Linked DNA regions of Homo sapiens: region 2 is linked to region 1. Evidence: fine-mapped QTL for protein levels in blood plasma. A gene starts in region 1. The other region holds a variant in brackets. All regions are shown on one strand. Distances are from middle to middle. Region 1 holds the start of EPHA1 (EPH receptor A1). Region 2 overlaps EPHA1 (EPH receptor A1).

Region 1 (2,500 bases):
CACCCACCTCTCCACCCCATTTCCCACTGGCCTTCAGGAGTTTTCCAAGATCCTTCCCTCTTCCGACACTTACCCCATCTTTTGGGGGATCCAGCAGCCAGCCCAGCTCTCCCTGTGCCTTGCTTGTGTCCATCAGAGTAACTGAAAGTGGGGAGAAAAGAAGTCTGTCACCTCTGGGGGAGGAGGTGCCCCTGCAGCCCACATTAATCATTCTGGGGCCTCAGCCCCAGGCTGCAACATCCTGTTCCTAAAAGCTGTGACTTCCTGAGGCTTAGGGGAGAAAAAGGGCTCAGGACTGAGGAGTGAAGAGCTCCAGGGATTTCACTCTTCTTTGTGTGTGTGAAGGAAGGCAGGTAGAGTGGGACAAGGGTTGGGGCGCTGGGTCTTTGACCAAAGTCAATGCAAGAAGAGCAGCCCCACGAGACGCTCAGTTACCCAGGCTGCTGCGTCCTGGGACACCCATCAGCTGCAGGATTGGAACGCGTGGAGGGCAGGAGGAGCTCACCTCTGCTAGCCAGGAGTGGGCAGGGTGGACCGGGGACCTCAGAAGGGGTTTCCTGGGTAGGGAGGCTCACCTCCACTGTCCGAAGCCTGCTTTGGCCTGACCTGGCCAGTGATCAGAGCCGTGAAGTGGGGATAAGAGGCACAGCTACCTGCCTGGGAAGTGGGGGGGAGTAAGGCCGGAGAGGGTGTTCCAACTTTCACATGGAATATTCGACTCGGACAACTGGGAACCCCTGTGGCGTCAGTCCTAACCCTTCTCCCGGAGGCAGCTCCCTCTGTCCCTGGCCTAGGTTGGCAGGAGGCGACTTCCCACCTTCAACTTCCAAGGGCTCAGATCTCTGGGGTGGGCACCTGAAGCTGGGACTGTCTGGGAATGCAGGCAGGGGTGCGGGTGCAGGTGCTACTTCCTGGCAAGGGTCCGGAATTCCCTCCCCACTCCCAGGAGCAGATTGCTGGCCTGCGGGAGTGGGGGTGACTGACCCGGGAGAGCAGCCGCTTGGGGTTAAAGACCAAAGATGGGCCTGGCCAGTCGATAGCCTGGCGGTCGGGCACAGCGAGAGAGCTGGCGAGGGTCTCGGGGAACATGGCCCCTAGGAATGCCGGCTTCTGCAGGGGGGTGCTGGCCGGGCCCCGGGAAGGGGCGGGGCGCGGGGGTTGGGGGCGCGGGGGCGGGGGTCGGTACCTTCCTTGGCGCGCGCCCCCGGGGGCAGCGGGGCGCAGAGCAGCAGCACCAGCCCTAGCCCCAGGGGCCAGCGCCGCTCCATAGCTCCGGGCCGGGACCTGGGACAGTGGCCCGGATGGCAGCGCCAGGTTGCAAGGGACTAGGAGAGCCGGGCGGGCCGGGCGGGGGCGGGGGGCGGGGCCAGCGCCGGGGGCGGAGTCCCGGCCTCACCTGGTTCACCTCCTTAAAGGGACAGTAGGGCAGGAAAGAAACTTGCTAGACTGGTAATCAAATTCAAGAACCGGAGGCGTCTTGACCCGAATGAGACTGCGGGCGCCGCCTAGTAGGTGGGATTAAGAATTGACGAACCTTTTCCCAATTCTAATCCTAAACTCAACCCAATCTTGATCCAGCTTTTAACCTAATTCTACCTCTGACTTGAATTACACTCCTATATTCCTCTTTCTGTCTTTGTGCAGGCCCCAGAGCTGGGTAATAGGGCCGGGGAAGGCAAGGGGTAAGAGTCATATCTTCACCCTCTAGCAGGGGAGGCTTAGATGACCACAATGCAAGGTGGGGTACAACCTGCAGTGAAGCATCTGGAGATTAGAAGAGGAAGCAAGCCCAGTCATCGGGGCACATTAGTTGAGTCTTCAGGGAGAGCTGGTGTGACCTGGGTTTTCAGTGGCAGAGATTGGGAAAGGCACCAGCAAGGGCCTGAAGGCAGGGAGCCTCAAGGTGCGCCCAGGGAGTGGTGAATGGACCAGTTTGACTGCTGGGGCGCAGGATTTGTCTTGGGAATCAGGGCAGAAAGGCAGGTGTGGGCCAGGGCTGGGTAAACAAGAAAAGGAGTTTGAACCTTGACATGCACTTACACAGCAGACATGAATATCTGGTTAAGGTTCCAGCCACAGGTGGCAGGGAAGGATATTTTAACCCATCTTAGTGGTGTCAAACCACGTGCCCTCTCACTTTCTTGCGGACTTCCTTATATTCTTTTTCTTTTTTGAGATGGAGTCTCGCTCTGTGGCCCAGGCTGCAGTGCAGTGGTGCAATCTTGGCTCACTGCAACCTCCGCCTCCCTGGTTCAAACGATCCTCCTGCCTCAGCCTCCCGAGTAACTGGGATCACAAGCGTCAAGCGTGCACCACCACACCCAGCTAATTTTTCTATTTTTAGTAGAGACGGGGTTTCACCATGTTGGCCAGCCTGGTGTCGAACTCCTGACCTTAGGTGATCCCTCCTGATCTCAAGTGATCTCCCTGCCTCTGCCTCCCAAAGTCCTGGAATTACAGGCCTGAGTTACTGCGCTCTGCCGAGACTTTCTTATATTCT
Region 2 (2,500 bases), 14 kb before region 1:
GAGTAAAGAGAGCAGGGCATGAGGTGAAGAACCAGAGGAGCCAGGAGTACAGAAAAACTGAAGGTCATGAATAAATAAAGATATTTGCAGGAAAAGGCCATGGGAGGACCTTGGGAGGAAATAAGAGGTGTGAATTGGAGACAAGATGAGGAAGAATATTCTGGGCTCACCTCCTGATTGCTCATCTCCCCATAAGGCTTGTCCCCAAAGCTCAGCACCTCCCACATCACAATCCCAAAGCTCCACACATCGCTGGCTGTGGTGAAGATCCGATGGGCAATGGCTTCAGGGGCTGTCCAACGGATAGGGATCTTTCCTCCCTAAGAAGGCACATGGGTCAGGGACGGAAAGTTATGGTGTCCACCTGAGCACGAGTCTTTCTGCTTCTTTTATTGTATTTTTATTTTATTTTTTTTGAGACAAAGTCTCGCTCTGTTGCTAGGCTGCAGTGCAGTGGCGCAATCTCGGCTCACTGCAACCTCCACCTCCCAGGTTCAAGCGATTCTCCTGCCTCAGCCTCCTGAGTAGCTGGGACTACAGGCGCCTGCCACCATGCCCAGCTAATTTTTTGTATTTTTAGTAGAGACGGGGTTTCACCATGTTCGCCAGGCTGGTCTCGATCTCCTGACCTTGTGATCCACCTGCCTCGGCCTCCCAAAGTGCTGGGATTACAGGTGTGAGCCACCGTGCCTGGCCAAGTCTTTGTGCCTATATACATGTGACTGTATGAATGGCATGTTACGGGGCAATGTGAATGTGCACTGGGTTTGTACCGGCCTCTAACCTGGGTTTCGTATGTGCCATCAAAGTCATCCAGGAGGCGAGTCAGGCCAAAGTCAGACACCTTGCAGCACAGGTTTTGATTCACCAAGATGTTTCTGGCAGCCAGGTCCCGGTGGACATAATTGTGATTACTGAGGTAGTTCATGCCAGATGCTATGCCCTGCAGCATGGCCACTAGCTGCCCAGGGACCAGCTGGTCCTCCCGCTCCTGCAGCAGGGTGAGTGGGTGAGTCAGGGGATGGGCCAGGTCTCCTCCCAGTGCCCAGGGTACCATGGTGCATCCCCCTCCCCAGCTAGTCCTCTGCCCTCCTCACCCTCAGGAAGGCATCCAGGGCTCCATTCTCCATAAATTCTGTGATGATCATGATC[G/A]GCTTTCCTGAGACACAGACACACATATCACACTCAGAACCGGGCTTCCTGCCCTTGGCCACACATCCTCCCTCCACTTCCAGTGGTTTCACCCCTCTTTCCTGCATTTCCCGCCCCCAGCTGAGGGAGACCACTCATCGTACGCTTTGTGACGACGCCTTCCAGATGCAGAATATGCGGGTGGCTAAACTGGCCCATGATAGTTGCCTCTCGAAGGAAGTTCCACCACTGGCCACCTGGGGATGTGTCTTTTAAGGTCTTAATGGCCACAGTCTTGCAGTCCTGGCTGGGGAGCCTCAGGGTCCCTCGATACACTTCCCCAAACTCTCCTGGGTAGAAAGAAAACAGGCTGTGGCCCGATGCACTGCAGGGCTCCTCCAGGGGACAGGCAGCAACCCCTCCAGTCCTCCGGCCCTTTTCTTTTCTGGAGAATCAGAAGCGTGGAGTGCCCTTCCTGGGACAGGGCGTGGGCTGTCCTTCCTGGGGAAGGTCAGAGTCTGGAGCTGGAGTGCAATGCCGTGACCTATTCACCACTGTCTCCCAGTGTTTGCACAGTTCTTGGCTCACAATAGGCGCTCGGCAACTGCAGGGTGAATGAACCCTGTGGAGCGGGACTGGGCCGTGCTCATGAAGAGCAAGCTAGTGCGGCACTAGTACCCAAGTGGCAGGGACGCTGGCTATGGCCGCCTCTCTTCTGTGAGCTCCTCTGGTCCCAGCTTGCCTGGCTCAGCTGCACAATTGGCAAGGACACCACCAAGCTTTGTTCTCCACTGAGATCCATTTCCTCTGGTGACCCAAGGGAACAGGGCAGCCCAAGGACACTGGGCCTCTGATGGGGTGGAATGCCAGGCTAGGGAGGGAATGAGTCCTACATTTGGGCATCATCACAGAACATCTGGACCCTCAGCACAGCAGCACCTCTGTGGATGAAAACAGTGTATTTAATGCCCTTTATCAGAAACTCCAAAACCACAGAAGCAAGTGTGTAGGAGACAGGGGTTGCTCCAGGGCACCTGATGAGGGGTTTTTAACAAGAACGCAATGGTTCAAAGAGGATACAGAGCAGAGCAGAGTGAGTACCTCTGGAAACTCTTGGACCAGAGAAGCCAGCTGGGCTGCCCAGGGAAGCGCTGGAAGGAAGGGGCCTGCTGGTGGCTCTGTGCTGCCCCACATGGCGGGGGGCCTGCTGCGGTGCACAGCAGGACTCACCTTCTCCTATGACAGTGTCCACCATCAGCCACGCTGGATCAAGCTCCCGGGTAAAGTCCAGGGCTCCCTGTGCAGGGTCCTCGTATGCCTGGAGGTCCACATAAGGCTTCAGCCACAGCTTGTCCTCTATGGGCAGAAC

The links. PIP is the chance, under the fine-mapping model, that this variant and not a neighbour inherited with it causes the effect. The UK Biobank Pharma Proteomics Project read protein levels with antibody pairs (Olink). The fine-mapping took linkage between variants from a reference panel, not from the people measured, so its PIPs are less certain.
Region 2: its variant is fine-mapped to the plasma level of the EPHA1 protein (UK Biobank, PIP above 0.99). The variant lies in the coding sequence of EPHA1. If it changes the protein, the assay may bind it differently, which can mimic a change of level.

Annotation. Positions count from the first base shown.
Region 1 is chr7:143,407,538-143,410,037 of GRCh38, forward strand. It overlaps EPHA1 (EPH receptor A1), which reads right to left and starts at 1,319. Exons shown (of 18, transcript NM_005232.5): 1 at 1,187-1,319; 2 at 74-141. The coding sequence starts at 1,268. EPHA1-AS1 (EPHA1 antisense RNA 1) reads left to right here and starts at 276. Exons shown (of 5, transcript NR_033897.1): 1 at 276-349. RefSeq lists an enhancer at 1,391-2,003.
Region 2 is chr7:143,394,024-143,396,523 of GRCh38, forward strand. It overlaps EPHA1 (EPH receptor A1), which reads right to left. Exons shown (of 18, transcript NM_005232.5): 11 at 2,362-2,487; 12 at 1,296-1,481; 13 at 1,098-1,159; 14 at 785-991; 15 at 171-320. Among named protein-coding and RNA genes, the nearest start is that of EPHA1-AS1, 13 kb to the right of the region's middle. RefSeq lists an enhancer at 1,485-2,195 and a silencer at 2,133-2,427. The variant G/A (reference allele first, on the strand shown) is at 1,153.